2 separate regions of the Homo sapiens genome follow, and region 1 is linked to region 2. The links come from fine-mapping of genetic effects on gene expression. Tissue or cell type: subcutaneous fat. Region 2 holds a variant in brackets; the other region holds the start of a gene. All regions are shown on one strand. Distances are between the middles of the regions.

Evidence for each region. PIP is the estimated chance that this variant, and not a neighbour inherited with it, causes the effect.
Region 1: it holds the start of HOXD4, and the variant in region 2 is the best candidate, but not a certain one, in a credible set for the expression of HOXD4 in subcutaneous fat (GTEx, PIP 0.66).

What each region holds. Positions count from the first base shown.
Region 1 is chr2:176,146,655-176,156,628 of GRCh38, reverse strand. It overlaps HOXD4 (homeobox D4), which reads right to left and starts at 5,079. Exons shown (of 2, transcript NM_014621.3): 1 at 4,563-5,079; 2 at 3,403-4,021. The coding sequence starts at 4,995. The coding sequence ends at 3,687. MIR10B (microRNA 10b) reads right to left here and starts at 6,326; the gene lies at 6,217-6,326. It also overlaps a transcript of HOXD3 not described here. RefSeq lists enhancers at 859-1,362, 4,627-5,360, 7,889-8,432.
Region 2 is chr2:177,122,450-177,132,423 of GRCh38, reverse strand. All of the region lies in intron 1 of LOC105373760 (a long non-coding RNA gene), which reads left to right. Among named protein-coding and RNA genes, the nearest start is that of MIR4444-1, 85 kb to the left of the region's middle. The variant G/A (reference allele first, on the strand shown) is at 5,002.

The sequences.
Region 1 (9,974 bases), 980 kb after region 2:
AGTCCCCACAGGAGCTTAACAGTACTGGAAAAGTAGAAGCCCAAGAGTGGAGGCCCGGGGGTCAGGTCAGAGCAGCCACCCAGGAGCCTCAGCTCGGCCCAGAACCCAGCACGCTCTCCCTGCCTTAGGGGTGGGGGACCAGTAAGGTGTCTCATCCACCACTTCCCAAAGACTTCCTCTGAGGGCTTCCAGACCAAAAAGGTCTGGGGCCTGGCCCGGGCCCAGCAGAATGCCAACCTGGATCCCCCTATTAACCTGGGCAATTACTTTTTCTTCAAAAAATTAACACCCAACACTCTGTACCCTGAATTCAACCCCAGGCTTCCCAATGCTCACAAAATATGGTGGCCAACTGGGAGTGTGTGTACATTAAGGAGGTGGTAATAATAGAATTGCTAAGCCTTACATGGTTTAACCTTCACACTTTAGGCACCCCCCAAAAAATGGTGCCTAATTTATTGCAGAAAATAATAACTTGTTTATGTTAAATGTTAGCTTTTAGAAGACTTAACAAAGGATGAATGCTTCTGTTAAGGCACCAAACAGGAGGGAGATTTTGCTACACCTTTTATTATTTTAAATATAGATCAATGAATTACATCAAAACTACAAGCAACAATTAGTATAAATAATACTTTAATCAGTGGCAGCAAAACATTGGTCAATTCTATTAAAAAAGCATCTCGTGTGAACAGACATCATGGGCTGACTGACAGTGTCATCTCCCAACAAAAGGCTGCGATGGACAAAGTGAGATGGGAGTCAGAGGAGCAATGTCCTCAGCAAACACTTCACTCTCCCCCTCCCCCAGTCAGGACCCCAACACGGTTTTTGTTTTTGTTTTTAAAACACCAACACAAACACTTCTGGCTCATATTTAAAGGAACAAACTGGAAACAAATAATAGCAAATGGGCATTGGAGCTTTTCCACACCTAGCTTTCTCCAAAGCACGTTCTCAGATGGAAACCCATTTCCTTCCCTGCCCTAAGTGGTTACGGGGCCCTACCCCTTCCCTGGCCCACTCCTGTGGGCCCAAATGGATGCTGGGGTCCGACTGGGACCTCAGGGTTGGGGGCTGCACTCTGGGCCATCCAGGCTCCATTAACATTTCAAAAGAATCCCTCCAAGCTGAGAAGGAGAGCTGAGACTTATAAACAAAGAAGTTGTTTCTCTGATTAAGTTACTTTCCAAAGTAGTGGGGCTATGTTTGAGAAGGAGCTTGGGTTTTCCTCATGAAAACATGTTTCTTGGCTTTCCTCTGGGGCAGGGATGCAGTCAGTTAAGCCTGTGTGGCATTTGGTATGAAACTGGGGGTGAGTAACCTGAACTTCTGAGGTGGGGGAAAATCTATACAACAAATCTCTATTATATATATGTAATTGGATGTTGTGAAAATATATACCTTTTTCCCCTTCTCAAAGAGAAGGTTCAATGTATAGACAGATTTGGGTTTTAGGAAAGCAGCTTAGCAACTTTCCAACTTGCCTAAGGATAGCGGCTCCTTTCAAATGGTACATCCAAAGACTGCTCTCCATGTTAGAGAGGAAAAAAGAAGAGAAGGGTAGTTAGAGTCCAAAAGGTTAGGGGTTTAGAGGTCAGTCCTCCCGGCTGAAATACAGCTAATCAAATAGAAAATTTGTCCTCTGGATGAACCTGATTCTGTAATTTACCCGAACTTCGGTAAAATACCTTTTCAGCTTCTCAACGTGAGGGCGTCAGAAAAAAGACGTCTTGACTATGTATGAACTCTGTGCTTTTTGTCATAGAAACAATGATGTGAATAATGCACGAATATCCATCTTTAATATCCCGACGTGGTGACATTCAAGTATTGCCATGTGCAAGTCTGAGAGCCAGGCTCACCCCAAGGAGAAACAAAGAGCAGTCCCCAGGGTCTAATACAAAAGACCAAGGCTTGGAAGACACTTCAGAGAAGCGGAATTTCAGCCTAGGGACTGCAGTGAATACCTGCCCTCAGCTCTCAGGAGACACAGCCAAAGAACAAGCCTACAGAGAAACTCTTTTTTCCCTCCCACTTAAATATATTTTTTAAATTACAACAGAAACCTTCTAAAGTGTTTTTGAAGTACTGAAAAAAATACCCCCCTTCTGGATCTTAAAATTAAATTTTAAGCTTATCCTTTCTCCCTTTCCCACTTTGGTCACTTTTTGATAGCTACAACCTTTTTTGGAGCCTGAGGCCTTGGGAAGACTGGTTTCATCTGAGTATATGAACTCTGGCCATTAACTTTGACTTCTTCCTCCTTATGCTTGAGGGTCAGCATTTTAGAAAAATGAACTTTGAACCCTTCCCAGGAGAGGCAGAAGAAAAACGACTAGAGGACATCTCCCCTGTTGAGAGTGATTCTTTAAAAAACCACTATTCTCAAGGCAAAGACGAGTGCTTGAAAACTTTTATACTTTTACAAATTCTGCTTCTAATTAATGAGCTGAGGAAAACTTCCTTAGATTTGGTTTTTAAAAAAATTAAAACTTCAGGGGGAAAAAAACTCTAAGGCTAACTTTTGTGGACTTCTAGATTCAATTAGGGTTTTTTTTTTTTCCTTCTTAAAGCAAGAGTTCCTCACCTTCCCACTTTCTCCCCACTGCACAGCCCCTCCCCTACACAGGCCATACACTAATTCCTGTAAAACACTGCTATATGAGGGTATTTAGGGCATTTGGAATCCAGTTGGAACAGAAAATTCAGTCATTATCTAATGACCCAGTGCATAGAGGTTTTGTTTTCTTTCCCCAGAAGGAAAATGTTGGACCATTTGTTGGTTTTTTTCCCTTTCCTTTAATCACCCAGAACTGGTTGTAAGCACAGTGCTGAAAAAAACACATGTGGAAATATATTTTCAAGAATGCAACTTTGAGTGAATCCTTTGCTTCCTTCTGGAAGGGTTAAGGCCCCCCTATATACATTTCCAGAGAGTGGGGAGGGGTGGAGTTCAGAAGTAAGTGCACATATCTCTGATTCTGCTCCCTGAAGTTCAGCCCCTTTCACCTTTTTAAGATTTTTGGCATGAAGGTGTCAGTTATTTCTGTACCACATTTCCCAACAAATAAATATTTAAGCAAATATCTAAACATAAAATAACCCATTTTTACTTCCTTCTTAGACCCATTTCTTTGGAGGTGGGGCCACTGGGAGCAAAATATATATTTTTTAATCACATGAAATTCCATAGACAACCCAGAAAGTCCAGAAATCCTGACCCAGCTCTCTGGCTTCCACTGAAAGCACCTAGCACAGGGGTGGCCAACCTTCTGCCTCAACTCCCCCACATTATTAAGCCACAAAGCACCCTGGAGGGGTGGAGTGGGGGAGAATGTCCAAATTCACAGTGGGATAAAGCATCCAACCTTCATTTGCAAATTCAAAATCCAAGAGCGGTGATTTTCATAAGTTTAATGACTCGCCAAGATTTTATGTTCTCAGTAGCTCCTGCCATATAATATACTTAGAGAGAGAATCCCGCCCCCCCTCCCATCCCCATCCCGCTCTAGGGAGGGGGCTGCCCTCGGGCAGGATGCTAACCTAGTCCGAGGGCGGCCTGCTTGTCCCAGGTCCACCCCACAGTACCTTAGAGCCCAGCGAGGTGACAGCAGGCCCGGCCTGCCCCCGCAGCTTCGGCTCAGCCTGGTGCGCAGGGAGAGATGGGCCCAGGGTCCCCACTTCTATAAGGTCGTCAGGTCCGTGTGGTGGTCTTTGGCCATCGGCTGTAAATGCTGGCTGGGGGCGACTGAGGAGGAGCAAGATGAGGAGGAAGATGAGGACGATGACCTGCCTTTAGTGTTGGGCAGCTTATGATCTTTTTTCCACTTCATCCTCCGGTTCTGGAACCAGATCTTGATCTGGCGCTCCGACAGACACAGGGTGTGAGCGATTTCAATCCGACGGCGCCTTGTCAGATACCTGTTAAAATGAAATTCTTTTTCCAGTTCTAGGACTTGCTGCCGGGTGTAGGCCGTTCGGGACCGCTTGGGTTCCCCACCGGTGTAGTTGGGGTTCACTGCGAGACAAAACAGACAGGACAGGCAGGTCAGCGCCCGGCCACTAGTTAGGCCCCTCGCCTCCGCCGCTCACTTCCTGGCGCGCCCCGAGGCCCGCGGCCCTCCCCGCGCGCTCCCAAGCTCGCTTGCTTCCTCCCTCCCGCCCTCTCCCCGGCGCACACGCTCACTCCCACCCACCTCCTCAAACACACCCACATACCCCAGGCTTGCGGGATCCCCAAATGTGCTCCTTCTTCTGGGCCCACCACCAGGTCCGGAACCCTCAAGCATTTTGGAAATCCCCCGCTCCTCCACAGCCTTCCCCCTGCTCTGAAAATGGAGTCCTCCCCCACCCCCCCATCCCCACCCCCTTTTGCGCCCACAGCCGAGCAGCCAGCCACATGGTCCTGACCTGCTCCCTCAGCTATAAAAATTTATGGGGAGAGTAATTGCGGCGCCCATGGAAGCTCCACACGCCCCCACCTACTCGCACCCCCTTCCAGAGGACCCAGGCTAACGGGCTGGGATGTGGACAGAAAGGTTACTGGACCCTAGCCTTACCCGAATTCACGTGCACCTTCTTCATCCAGGGGTAGACCACGGCCGGCTGCTTGAGTGCCGTCCCGGAGGGCGGCTGCTTGGGGTCGGACTGACTGTAGGCCCGGGCGCCAGGCAGGGGCGCCGGCGGAGGCGCCGGGGGAGCTGGGCAAGGCTCTCCTGGAGCGGCGTAGTGACCGCCGGGGCCGCCTGGCTCTTGTCCGTGACCCCGCGCAGGCAGCGCCGAGCCAGGCCCGGGGCCGCTGCCTCCGAAAGGCTGCTCACCGAAGTCGGGCCGTGGGTAGAGCCCCGGGGGCTGGAAGTCTGCGCCCTGCGCGCCGCCGCCGTAGTAGTCGGCGCCCTGCTCGCCTAGGTAGCCGCCCTGCAAATACTCCTCGCACGGAGGGAACTTGGGGTCCACATACTTGGAGTTCACCATATACGAACTCATGACCATTAATTTCAGAAGGTAGAAAATACTAATTTTTCTCGTGTTGTCTTTTTTTCTCCTTCCATAGGGCCCTCCTACTTGCTGTCAACTGAATAAAGTTGGGCAGCCATGTGACCAGGCCAGCCAATGGCGAGGGAGCAAGTTTATCACCGGGTTGGTGAGCATCTCATAATTTTCACAAATTTAACTAAATAACATACGTGTAATCAAGTAGCTTGCTATGGCACATTTGAGAGCCCCTGCCAGATATTAATGTAGTTCCAGTCCCCAGCACCCCATTCCCCTCAGGTAATCCCAGCTTTTGTCTGCCACTGATTTTGCCAACCTTCCGTGGCCCTTCCACTCACCCCCAGCTGAATGCAACCCCCGCCCCCCGACACCAAGTAGGCACAGCTCAAGGGAGAATGAATCCTCCTATTGGGGTACAGAGCAATGAAAGGTGGGTGGGTGAACTCGCCTCTGAGTTGGGCAGAGTGCCCCAGGCGAGGAGGGTTCCTGCCTGCCCGCCCTGCCTGCAGCCGGCGGGAGCAGGGATTCTGCCATACAAAGGCCGCCGTCCTGGCTTTGTCTTCATCAGGGTCACCCAAAAGTTACCAGAATCTGGCCAGCTTGAATCAAATTAGGCAATGAGTAACCGCCATGCTTTCTACCAGTGCCCAGGCCCGGGGGTTCCCAGCCAAAGCTGGGCCCTGCCAAAATAGCAGGGGGCCCTCGCTGCCCTTGCCCATGTAGCTGGGGGTGGGCTGGGATGGTGGCAAGGGCACCTCCACCTTGTCAAAATGCACCCTAGAGCTCCCCACTGGGCTTCTTTGAAGCTTGCTTTCTTCCCACAGGCCCCAAATACAAGCAAGCCCCCATTTGGGTACCTTTGCACCTCATGTTCCTGGAGGGCAGAGCTGGGACTGGGCAAGCTGGCCTTGTACCTCACTCCCTAGTACCCCAAAACCTAGCCCTTTGGCCCTGCATCCATGCAACCAATTAGGCTTGCATTCTCTCTTTCTCTCTCTCTCTCTCTTTCTCTCTTTCTGTCTTTCTTTCTTTTCAGCACCCAGAGGATACTCTGTTTAAAGGTGAGGAGCTTCTGGAGAGGAAAAGCTGCTCTATGTCACCAGGCGCAGCTGATCCTCCTGGAGTCCAAGGTAATAAAACAGAACGAGGCGGCTGACCAGCGCCGGCTGCTTCTAGTCTCCATGTCGCACTTTGGTCTCTGGCTATTCCGAAGAAACGTGAAGTTTTTGCATCGACCATATATTCCCCTAGAATCGAATCTGTGACTATACGGATACCACACAAATTCGGTTCTACAGGGTATATATAGACAACGTTACAACCTCTGGGTCCCACCCAGAGTGAGGTACCTAGGTCGCTGCCGGCCCCAATCTCTTCCTCTGAGCCACCACCGTTCGACGCAGCCACCCGCACTTTCTGAGACAGTTCAGGTAGCCTAATGGGCTTGGCGACAATTTGAAGCAATGAGTTCCCTCATTCTTCTGCCAGGGTCAGGGTTACCAAGCAGGCGAACAACCAGAATATTCTTCTTAAGAAAGAAAAAAAGAAAGAAAGAAAGAAAAATAATCCATCCCAAGGATGGCGGCTTTATTAACCACCCTCCCCCACCAGGATCCAAATAACCCTCCTCCTTACCAAGTGGTATTTTCCAGAAAGGAACAAATGCCCTCAGCGGCAGAAGAAAAAGAAGCGAGAGGGGAATATCCTGTGTCTACTCCTTTTCCTACTGCCCGACCAAGCCAGGTTGTCTGCCAAAGCTACTTCTCCAAGAAGTCGCGCATTTACCTTCATGGGCCCTGATCCGGGCTGGCCTCTCCGTTCCGCTGCTGCTGCAGACCCCGAGGCAGGCGCTGCTCACAGGCACCGAGCCGCCTTGGGCTGAGGCCGGCGCGCTAATGGTGAAGGGCAGGGCGAGGGGTCATTCGAAATCATTTACAAACATATCACAAACTTTCATTATTTTTGCTTTGCCGACAGCAGCACACAAGAGTACAAAAGTTCACAAATTTCACCCGCCCCAGCGCCTCGGCACTGTGCAGTGCTTGTCCCTCAGTTCAGGGCATGGAGAGCGCAGACTCACTCAGAGCCTCGATGGATTTCAGGGGCACAGGGATGCCCTGGCTCGAGTGGGGCTTTTGGGTGCCTAACTGTAGGCTGAAGGTGTTAGATTTTTTTTTAACTGTCTTGATTGCCCTTCCTACCTCCCACATAATTCAAAATTTAGTTTCAAGCCTGGGCCTGGGCCTGGTGGGGTGGGGCAGGGATACTCCCCCTCCAAGCCTGGCACTTTGCTCATCCCCCCATCCTTTGCTTCCACCACTTTACCTGTTTCGTAGGGATTTTGGGGGCGCCAGTTCTAACAAGGGCTATGAGGCTGCAGAATCTGTTTATCCCAGGAGAGTCCCCCCAATTTCCCTGAATGCCAAAGACTCCCAAGTATCCACCTTCCTGGGACACTGGGCCTAGGCTCTATCCAGACAAATTGGGGGAGCCTGCTGAGCCGGCTGGAGACCGGGGTGAATATACACATTTTCATATTTGTTAGACGCTGTGACCTGCATTTCACCTTATTGCTCGACTTGTTCAGACAGGTCAAAGCCAACGAGTTATTGATGAACAAAAGCGTTAAATATTCACCTCCCGCTCAACTGCCCATACTAATGCTTTTGATCTCTAGGGCTTTTTGTGCTGTGTTCAGCTACAGGGCGCTGAATGTGGGTTTGCTAGCGAGAAGCTTCTGCAGAGATAAGCACCCAGAGCCAGTGCAGGGGAGGAGAGAAGCAAGACCAGAGGTCCCCAGGACACCAGATTTTCCAGACTGGAGCCCAGAGCCCCTTTCACTTGAGCCAGCCTGGTGTATAGGGGTAGTTGCTCTTCTAGGGGTGTGCACAGTCTACAAAGGGTCGACTAGACTGCCCAGCCCAGCGGGGCCAAAAAACCTGTCTCTGAGGCCAGCCCCAGCTTTTCCAACCAAGAAGGAGGGAGACTGGTTCCTGCAGCCCTCACATATTCCAACTCCCATTAAAATAAAATCACTTCCGTTTTGCAGTGAGGGAGGGGCCACAGTTCTTTCTGTGACTCTCCCTCCAATACCATCGTCTTAATGAGATGGTCCTCCAGGAGGCTTCACAGGCCTAATCAGAAATGTACCTGTCTTTCGCGGCACAGGCAACTCAGAAAGATCCAAACATCCAAGCCAAGGATCCCACGAGTCTCTGGCCCCACCCCACCGCATCCACCCCACTCCACCCTCCTATGCCTCCTTGCAGCACCAGCGCCTCTGGGGCGGAAATTCTCCAACTGCAGTTACAGAGAAGCAGAGGTGAAAAGAAGGTCCGTATCCCTCCTCGCTCAGCCAGTGTCCCAAGCCCAGGGCCCACACCGCTGCAAACAGATCGGGGGAGGGGCGGGGAAGGAATGTCCACATAAAGCTCAGAAGCGGGCAACTCAACACACCCACGGCCACAGAGGATTGAGTTTTTGTTTTCAGTGAATTTTTTTAAAAACAGAAGGTTGGCCAGGCTAGACCAGGTTAAGAAGGGTTGGGCTGCGGAGGGGACCGCATTGCCTTGGTGTTTACTGCGTTGGTTTGAAGCCGCTAATAAGACAGGCTGCTAATTAGCAAGCTCTTAACAGAAGTGAGCGCCTTGGCGGAGCTGCACCTGTGCAGAGCAGGGAAGGGCCGCGAAGGTCTAGGGAGGCCCAAGGAGACAAGGGCGAGACCCCGCGGACCGTTCTCTCAGGCAGGTGTCTGTGAACCAGGCCCCAGAAAAGCTTTCCGGGACCTCGATTTAGCGCCTCCACCTCCCGAAGCGGGCTAACCTCGCAGAGCGAGGCCGGGGGTGGAGGGTGGGGGTGGGGTGGGGGAGGCAGGGCCTTTCTTCTATCCGCCCACTCCGCTGGCTTGGCCCCTTAGCCCACCACTTCCCCGCGATCAGTACCGTCTCTTCGCGATTCGGAAGAAGCGGGAAGGTACTTACAGCGGCGCTCTCTCATGGTCCTGAACCTGTTGCAATGAAAACGGGGATCACTTAAATTCCACAGGATAATAAAGCAGACACATATAACACACAGAAAAATGACAAGGCCCAGATACCCCACCAATACCCAGACCTCCCTGCTTCAGGTGCCCGCCCCCGGGAACTGCGCAAAGTTCTCCGCAGAGCCGGAGACCGCAGTCCCTCAAGAGCAGAGCCACGGATTATGACAGATTTCGATCTCCATCGCCTCCCCCACTCCACGCACCCTTGGGCAAAACCTCACTAGTTACTGGGCCCGAGTCAGGTCGCCTGTAACAGGGTTTTCCCAGTGGGAAAACGAGAAGCGAGGAGAAAATGGGCCTTTGTGTGTTTCCTTCTGCGCAATCGGGCCGGGTGGGTGCAGGTCCACTGGGGAGGGGGTAGCCGCTCCATCTGCCCCTCACCCCTGCTTCCTATCTCTCCCACCCTGGGAGCAATTCAGCCTCCCTTTCCAGCTTCAGCTTGGTTTCAAATTCCTCAGCCCCAACCAGTGCCCCCAAAACCTGTCTTCTCCTCTTCAAAGAAGAATCAGGCATGGCTGGGACTTGCCACTTCTACTCCAATTCAAAACAAAGAGCAATTTCCAGGGGGAAATGAGGACCCAAATGATAACCAAGGAGGAGGAAAATCAATGGGTTTAAAGGTGAATGGCAATGCTTTAGATTGTTATCCAGCTCTATGGGTATGACATCAATTTTTCAGGATTGCTGCTGGAGAGCCCAGAAGACAATCTTACTAAGCAGTGGTCCTCCCAGAGGCTGGTGTCCAGTTTTAAGTTTTCAGTCTTTCCTGATATTATTATAGGAAAGCAGTATCAGAAATCTCAGGGACAAAGCAGCTTCACCCTCATCCTCTCTTTCTTTCCCCACCCAGAATACCACTGTTTTATTCCACTTCTGAAGGAGATGCTCTTAAGGGGGAGGAGAGGGGCAGTAAGTCCCTCTTGTGAGGTGAGAG
Region 2 (9,974 bases):
TGGTGCTTGGGTACATAGTAAGAATTATGTAAGTATTCATTAAATAAATAAAGCCATTTAACAAATATCTGAGTACCTAACATGGGCAAGGACTATGCTAGATTCTGGGAATACATATCAGAAAAGAGGATCTTTTTTTGTTTGTTTATTTTTCATTTTTTGAGACAGGGTCTTTCTCTGTCACCAAGGCTGGAGTGCAGTGGTGTGGCCATGGCTCACTGCAGCCTCAACTTCCTGGGCTCAAGCAGTCCTCCTGCTTTGGCCTCCACAAGTGTTGGGGATTACAGGCATGAGCCACTGTGCCTTGCCAGAAAAGAGACTGTTTACTACCTCTCATTCTGCCCTGCCTAGGTTCCAGGGTCATAGTCCTTGCTTCATTGCTTGTGCCCAAGCTCCATCTATTGCTATATCTGTGTCTTTTTTTTCCTTCTGTGTTTGAGTGTCTCTTTATTCTCTGATACATATCCTCATTACTGAAAGATTGGGACCTGGGGAAATGCACTGGTGTTTGAAGCTTCAGTCCAGGCTGCTAGATCCTCTTAATGCTAAATGCAAACCTGGATGTCTGCTCCTGCCAGGCTCCTGGCTCCTCTGACATTCTACCTGGTGGTTCCACTTGCCCCTTCCCCTTTATTGCTGGGTGGTTGCCAGAACACCTCAGCAGGTCTGTTCAAGGACCTTGTCTTTGCTAGTCTTTCCCATTATGGTAAGTGGCTCTCTCCAGAGGTTCAAGCCAGAATCCTAGGAGTTATCCTTGGTTCCTCTTTTTTCCTCCCACCTTATTGAATCCATCAGCAAGTCCTGTTAATTCTACCTTCAAAACATCTCTTGAATCTCACAGGCTTTGTTGATCCTCGCTGTCATCACCCAAGTCCAGCTTCCCACCATCTTGTTCCTGGATCCCCGTAGTCACTTCTGGACTGGTCTGCCTGCTTTCACTTTTGCCACCTGCATTCTATTTGCCACACAGCAACCAGAAGGGTCTTTAAAAAATGCAAATTGGATTACGTTTGAACTCTACTCAAACCCTTCAATGACCTCCCATTGCACTTAGAATTAGTGCTACTAAACCAATGATTTAATTTATAAGAGCAAGTTTTGAAATCAGTGTTTTCTAACCCTTGGGTCAATCTCAGAGCATTTTGCTATGAAATTTTCAAAATTAAAGATTACAATTGCAACACTTAATTGTTTAATTTTCTTCTGTGTTATTAGATATTTTGCTGCTAAAATTAGTTGGAGTTGGGAGGAGGAGCACTGGGGCATAACCGTCAGCAGCTGCAGCTTGGAGAAGCTGGTTCTCTTGTCTTCAAGAAGGCAGATCTCTCCCTAGCCTGCTGAGCCTTCTGTGTTTTGGGGAAGGTTTGTATTCTTTCTTCCTCGGGATTATGGCCCTGAGAAAGTGTCTTCTAGTTCTCATCAGGACCAGGATCGAGGACCAGCCCTGGGTCAAAAACATAGGATGTGGGTGAGCACACAGTGGGGCACTGGGCAGTACGGACTGAGTCACCAGACAGTACCTGAGCCATAGAGGGCTGCTGCTGGGGAGGAAGCAGACAGAGGTGCAATGGAGGTGAATGTGCCACGCTAGAGTCAAGCGCCTTCATCAAGATTTAAGGAGAGGGGGAGTGAAGGACTGGAGTAGAAACCACAGGTACAGACATGGAGAAGGTAAGGCCGTTACAGCCTGAGGAGAACAGCGGAGGTTTTAAACGCCTGGCAGGTCTCAGTGGAACTGCTTCCTCAACTCACAGATTAGCTTCTTTTTACCGACTCAGCTTCCTTTCCTGATAAGCCCAGTTGCCATGTAGACTTTGTCAGAATTTAATGCTCTCTTTAAACCAGTGGGTCTCAATATCATTAGAATCATGTGGGAAGCTTTGTTAAAAAGAAAAAAAAAGATGCCTGGGTTCCACTCACCTAGGTCAACAGAATCAGAATCTCTAGGGAGGTGGAGGTGGCATAGGGTTGGTGGAGTTGGGCCCAGGCATATGTGATTTCTTTAGAAGTTCACCATGTGATTCTGATGCCCAGTGAAGGTCGAGAACCATTGCCTTCAGCACTCTTACTTTGAGTAAACAGGATCATTCCCCGCTTTTGAGATTTAAAATTTTAGAATGCTGCAGCTAGATAATACTTTGTGGCGGTGTTTCTCAAACTTTCATGTGCATGTGAATCACCTGGGGATCCTGTTAAAAAGCAGATTCTGGTTTAGGTGACTGGAAGTGGGGCCTAAGCTGTGGCATTTCTCACTCATGTCCCTGTGACATGGGAGCTGCTGGAGTGAGGACCACCTTGATTGCAGTGGAGCTTTAGATCGAATACAGATGGAATGCTGCCTCTGTGCCAGACCCTGTGCTTAGTGCTGTACATTCAGTGCATTCTCACAGCCTCTGAAAGAGGTACTGTTTATAATTCCATTTTACAGGTACGTAAACTAAGGCCTAGATAAGTTAAGTATCTTGTTCAGGATAATAATGCTGGTAAGTAATAAGAGGCAGAATCTGGATCTAGATGGTCTGATTCCAGAAACTGTGAGCTGAACCACAATGTAATACCACTTCAAAGGCAGGATGGGGCTCAGGGGAGGACCTGCAGTTGGAAGAGGTGTTCAAGGACTTGTACTGAAGCTGTGTTTGTATAACAACAAGGTTTTGTTTTCATTTGAGATAGCCCCTGGAAGAGGCGAATAAAAACAGGTATTACAGAGGAGCTAAAGCACTCTAAGCCACTCCTTGGCCTGTCCCTGTAGGCCATGCCTTCATGTTGCTGGGCAGGAACAGGAGTTCATTGCAAGGTGTATATCGCAATTCAGTGGCAATATATTTCAGGTGTCACTGTATATCTCATAGATAGCCAGGTGGCTTCTGACCTTGTGATGACTTTGTTGTCAGAACTGAGGCCCCTTGGATTGTCATGACCTGGCCCTTGCCTGCTTTTCCCCCTCCTCTTCCACAGCTGCCTCCCTGACTTACCCAATGGCAAGCTCTAGACACATTAACTGCTTTCAGTTCCCTGACGGTATCACAATTTTATACTTCATGAATGTTGTCTTCTCTATTGGATGTCTTTGTTATCCTTTTCTTGCCAGGTTAAATGCTACCTTGTTCAACATCCCGGACAATGTAGTTCTTTCAAAAAGAATTTTCTAACCCTCCCAGCCAGGATTAAGTAATTCCCCTCCTCCTTTGGTCTGTCATAGTCCCCTGTTTCTTTTAATTAGAGCACTTAAGTAATTTACTTTTCTATTTAGTCAGACGGTGAACCTCTCTAGGGCTGTGCTTCATTTATCTTTGCATCCCAGGGCTTAGTATAGTATTCAGTAGGTGGTGAGAAGGCTGACAAGCATGTGTATTGAATGAATGAGTGACCCTTTTATTCCCAGTCCAGTGTTCTTTCCAACTGATGATTTGACTAAACTAGTAGTTTTCAATCCTGACTGTAGGGTTTTTAAAATAATCTGGATCATACCCAAGTCAGCTAAATCACAATCTCTTGGGGGTGAGGCCTAGGCATCTGTGTTTTTAGCAAAGTTCCCCAAGTGATTCTAAGATGTAGCCAGGTTGAGAACCAAGGGATTAACCTTTCAGAGTTACTCTTGCTGTGGTTGGAGCATAATAGTTGAAAGTAACATAGAGGAAAATTGTTGTCTGTCTTCAAAACTGAAAAGGAGAAATAGAAGGAAATATATGGGTAAACTGATCACTTACCTAGGCCTTTTGAAAGTAAATATATAAAACAACAGCATTTTAAGGCTGGGATAAGGAAATGTCATAAAACCCAATAATCAATTACGAAGTATGACACTTCTAAAAAGTTGGGAATCATTTTTCTAAAATTATATTAGTATATCATCCCAATCTGTGCTTTTTTGGCTATTTTTATCCATATATCATTTGCCTTGAGTGCTAGTGAATGATCTTTAAAGGCTTTCAACAAATGACTCACCATTCTCTTACTTTATAATATAGTATGCTAATTGGCAGTCATCTTAGGAGTGTTAAAATATGGCAACAATAACATGAAGTTAATTGTAAAGAAAGGGAGTTGGCTCTTTGTGGCTCTAGATCATTCCAGGTATGAGCAGACTTGTAAATACATCTGTTTATTCATTCTCCATGCAAACATTTGGTACTTATCTTCTCTCGGACAAAGTGCTACATATTGGAGGAAAAAGGGTAATATAAGACACCCTCCCAGAAGTTCTCTGTCTTAAATATGAATAATTAACAGTGCACCATGATATGCACAATGGAGGTCCACTCCAATGAGCACAGGAGGGAAGACGTGTCAGGGAAGGTTCACATGAAGCTCACCTACACGCACATAATATACAGCAGTGGTGTCAGGGCACGGATGACATTTCAGATGGTACTGAAAGGACAGCTCCAGGCACACAGCCCAGGTTGGTGGGATCTTGGCTCATTGCAGCCTTGACCTCCCTAGGCTCAGGTGATCCTCCCACCTCAGCCTCCTGAGGAGCTGGGGCTACAGGTGCCGCACCACGCCTAGCTAATTTGTGATTTTTGGTAGAGAAAGAGTTTCAACATGTTGCCCCGGCTGGTCTCAAACTCCTGGGCTCAAGCAATCTGCCTGCCTCAGCCTCCCAAAGTGCTGGGATTATAGGCATGAGCCATCACGCTCAGCCTGATGTGTTTGTGTTTGATTAAATCCATGGCACAAGATTTAATGTGGCATTACAAATGCTGTAATCTCAGCATTTTGGGAGGCTAGGATGGGAGGCTCAGCATTTTGAGAGGCTGAGATGGGAGGCTCAGCACTTGAGTCCAGGAGTTTGAGATCAGCCTGGACAACATAGCAAAACTCTGTTTCCACCTTAAACAAAAAACAACCATAGCACATCCTAATAGAGTTTTATTGGAGACTCACTCTCAAAAAGAGCCCTAAAAGAATTAAATAATGGTATTTAACTGACAGACACATGAAAAAATCTGGTTTCATATCTCAAAGTAACACTAACAGTTTCTTATGCCAGCAGAG[G/A]AAGATCATGTTTTAGAGAGATGGAGGTTTGACCATCTTCAGATAGTGACCTGCCCTTGCAGTACTTCAGAGCTCATCAAAGAGAGGAAGAGAAAAATGGAGTCACAGACTGCCAATTACTGCTTTTGCCTGGAAACAATGCATTTCACTTCCTTTTCTCATTTCATTGGCCAGAAATAATTACATAGCTATGTATAAAATAAGGGGGATGGGGGAATTATAATCTTTGTGTGTCCTGAAGTGGAGAACACTTGAATACGGGGGAATGTTACTAATGTCTACCATAGTCAGTCTCTTCAGCTTCACCCATGTGTGTTGGAAATAGAAGGGTGTGCTCTTCAGACATGAAGAAGAAAAAAATGACTTCATTACTATTGGTTATTATTCTTTTTATATTCTAATATATGTAGGATTGTTGCCAATAAGATTTTTATTTAAGATTGGTAGCAAGACCGGTCTTCATCAATATTAAAACAATTATTTTAAAGCTTTGAAATTAAGTTAAAGGCTATTACTTAAAGCAGCATGAATACGAATTCCAAGTAACAATCAGTATGATGATTGCCTTACTAAAATAACTTCAATTGAATCAATGTGCCCATGTGGAACACCTAGGGATTACAGGAGCAACTTCCATATAGAAGTTACCTCAGTGAGCTGGTTTCAAGCATGAGCCAGCAATGCAAATGCAGGCATATCACTTAAAAAAAAAAAAGAGATGAGGTCTGTCTCTCTCGCCTAGGCTGTAGCACAGTGGCAAAATCACGGCTCACTGCAGCCTAGAACTTGTGGGCTTAAGGGTTCCTCCTGCCTCAGCCTCCCAAGTAGCTGGGACCACAGGTGTGTGCCACCACACCTGGCTAATTAATTTTTTTTTTTTTTTTTTTTTTACAAACAGGGTCTCACCATCTTGCTCAGGCTGGTCTTGAACTCTTGGCCTCAGGTGATCCTCCCACCTTGGCCTCCCAAAGTGCTGGGATTACAGGCATGAGCCACTGTGCCAATGTGCCTGGCCCATTCGAAATACAAGATATATGCATTGTTTTGGTTTTTTAAAATTGCTTTCAAAATCTCTCACACACTACCACTTCTTTCCCCACTGTAGTCAGGAAGGAGGCAAGATTTGGGGAAGAGAAAGGATGGAATCCACTCAGGCTAGTTTTGGTGGAAGTAAAACAGTTTTCTAAGGAAAAAAGGGAACTACACTGTTTCTTTCTTTCCTCCTCCTTGGCTAACGTGTCAAGTGGTTAGGGGACCGTTATTCCCCTCCTTAGCTGGCCCTCTGGAGACTAGCGCTGTCCAATAGACCTTCCTATCCCTGCAATAATGAATATGGTAGCCACTAGGCACAGACGGCTATTGAGTACTGGAAGTGTGGCTACTGCAACTGAGGAACTAAACTCTAATTTTATTGAATTTACTAACTTTAAGTAGCCATGTGAATTCAGGTGATAGGAGAGAGGGAGGTTGTTCTTATTCCTGTTTTCGGTGTAGATTTTTCTGTACATCACAATGATTTTATCTTCCACACAAGATGTTGAAGATGAGCTGAGTCAGTGGGGGATCGGGTGGGAGTGAAGCGTGGACCGAGGCAGAGCCTGCTGCAATGCCTCCCTTCCTAGCCAGTGCAGACCAGGCTCCCTTCATGATCACTGGCGGACAGGACCAAGTGATGCCCAAAGACGGCACAGACACTAAAATGGGGACGATTACATGAATCTCAGACCTGATTTTGTTTTAAAGCCTATGACTTAGGATATGAGAAAAGAAGAAAGAGGCAAATAAACCTAGTGTGGTAACCTTTTAACATAGCATTAGCATCCATTTTTTCATAATATATTTGGATATAAAATCTTTATTGTGCTCAAAATTCTTATTAAAAATGCAGTGAACTGTAGTTTGTACATTTGCAGCCTCTCATTCCTCAAATTGTTCTTTTGTAAGAAATAATTTCTTTGATGGTCATTGTTTAATGAAAGACATGGGCAGTTATAAAAGAAAACTAATGTCATCAAACATTCATCTGGTGACTCCTATGTGCTGGTGCTATGCTAACAATGAATGGCACTTTGCAACACTAATTTTTAGCAAAATAACGACTTCTTAGCTGTAAAGTCCCCATGGGTGTGTGTCCTAGAGGCATATATTCTTTTCTATCTTTGTCTACGGTTCATTTTGGAAAACACCTACTTTTATTACACGATTGTAAAAATTAGTGCTCATATTAAACAATTTAATGAACCGAAGTGCCTCAGTCCTTTCGAAGCCTGACTGGCCTCCTCTAGATCTTTGGGCAGAGGTCAATGTAGAGTGATTTGCTGAAATGCTTGGATTTTATTCTTGAGATTTAACATGAAGGCAAGTGAGTGAAGTGAGGTAGGAAAGCACGTATGATTTCAAGATAATCTGATTTTTTAAAAGATAGAACATTTCACTTTCTGAATTAAAATTATCATCTTAAATAACCTTATCTCAAAGGAAGTCCTATTCCAAACATAATATCTAACAACATCAAATTTTTTTCTACCAGTACATACGTATAAACAGGAAAACTATTTTTTAGCGGAAAGTTAATTGTTGATACCACCATATTTGTACTCAAATGCAAGACCATTTCTAGTTCCACCCTCCCCACCGTACATTCCAGAGCCCACCTTTATTTTACCCTGACATTGTACCAGCATAAAATTCCAATATGCTAATTACTTCTCCAGATCATGCCATAGTTCTGATGCCATAAGACAAATATTAAAGGTTTACTTTTTATGTTCAGAATAATTGGGTAATTGTCGTCATCCTGTGACAGGTTTCCCTTTTTCCTGAGGTCTTTTGACTAATGGTTCTATTGTTATTGTTGGAGTGGCTCATGCCCCATTGTGTCATGACGCAAAACTTGATCTGTGGTAGAAATGCCTTACACATTTATTCCCTCCAGGAAACCAAAGGGCAAGAAAGTAACATTCCAGATTGAGAACCTGGCTTTTTGCACCATGACCTAACCTGTTCCAGGTGAAAAATATTAGGCCAAAAATAGTTTCATGAGAAAATTTTTACGTGAGTTCCTGCAGTGGTTCTCAGTACTAGCTGCTTGTTAATTAGTTAGTTAATTGATGGGCAGCTTAAAGCAATCACTATGTGGGCCCCACCTGAAACTTGTTAAAAAAGACTGATTTCTGGGGGCCCCATTATATGCTGTTGAAATTTAGACTCTCCACAGGAGGGTCCTGGGTATCTGTACTTTAAACAAAACTCTCAGATTATCAAATAAATTTGGTCAACTTGATTTAAGGTATTGATCTTGGGAAAGAGCACTTCATACTTTTTTTGAAATAAACTTAGTGGCCTTCAAGACATATTTCTAATGCCAGTATCTTACTTGTCTTCTTTTACTTATTTGCATATGAATACTATTAAAGAAGGAATATTTAACCATAGAGAAGGTTTGTTTACATTTTTGTCTTCAGCCAAATCAAGCCTTTCATAATTTTATGTATTAAAAATAAAATTTAGATCAGACTCCCATCTCTACAAAAAATGCAAAAATTATTGTAGCCAGGTGCGGTGGTATGTGCCTGTAGTCCCAGCTGCTTGGGTGGCTGAGGAAGGAAGATCGCTTGAGTCCAGGAGTTTGAGGCTGCAGTGAGCTATGATTGCATCACTGCATTGCAGGCTGGGCAACAGAGTGAGAACCTGTCTAAAATAAATTGCATTTTCAAGTTGTACTTTCAGCAGCACCAGATAGTATGCTGGAGCTCAGAGGCCAGGAGAGGAGCACTTTCCCTCTACTTATTATAAGAGGTAACTTAATACTGATGGAGGAGTGTCTTGGGTTCTTACACTTGGAGACCAATTTGTCATTCCATTCAACACAAAATAACAAGGGATTCACTAGTTCATACATTATTTCTATTCAACAAATGTCGTTTGACTGTCTACTGTATGCCATACTGTGTTAGGTATCAGGGATACAAAATAAAGTAAATTGGGATTTTTTTCTTGTTAGAACTGGTAGGTTAGAGCAGATATTCTTAAGGTGTGATCTCTATCCAGCAGCATTGGCATCCCTGGAAACTTGTTAGAATTGCATATTCTCTTGCCTTACCCCAGACCCACTAAATCTGATTCTCCATAAAGCTTGAGAACCACTGGCCTCTAGGAGGAGCGATCAGTTCAGCAGAAAATTAGAGTACCTTGTGGTAGATACAGTGGAGATGGGGAGGAGGCTAGGACTTTAGGAATGTTTCTGGGAGGAAGAGATGCTTGAGCTCTCTAAAATATTTGGTGCAGAGTGGGGGGAGGTGTTCCTAGAGAGGTCAGCAGGAGCCACACAAAAAGCCATGTTGCATTTTACTCTGAATGCAACATGGAATCTTTTGGACCCTATAGTCAGTTCATTTACAATTATCATCAATGTGATCTTTTGACCAGACTTTTAGCTAAGTGGTGCTGGTCTTGAGCTCTGTGTTTCAGGTGCTTCCTCAGATATGGGAAGTTAGAGAAATGCAGGTGTAAAAAATTCCTCTCGCATTAAAATCTAACACAGTAGTGTTAAATAAAGATTTGGTGAATAAACACAAATAAATGAAAGAGTGGATAAAGCTAGGATTTGGGGAAGGTAAGGAAAATGTGTAATGAAAACATAGCAGCATAAGCACTGGTTTTTGAGTGAATTGAAAATCCCATGGCATTCAAAAAATTACACAGACCTTCAGTGGTTTAATCAAAGAAAATAAGTATCTCTCCCATTTTTCAGCAGCCGGAGTTCAAAGGCTCAGAGTCACTACGTAGGACGGAGTGGGAAGAGAAGCAAGGAGAACTCTGTCAGTTCTCCTGGATTGCCTTCCTCCTGTCTTCCTGAACATTTGCGCAGTACGGTTAGTGGGCACTAACTGTGTTCCAGGGACTCTACACATATTATTTATAATACATTCAACACCAATAGAAAGTAGATGTTTTCCTCCCAAGTTTTAAAA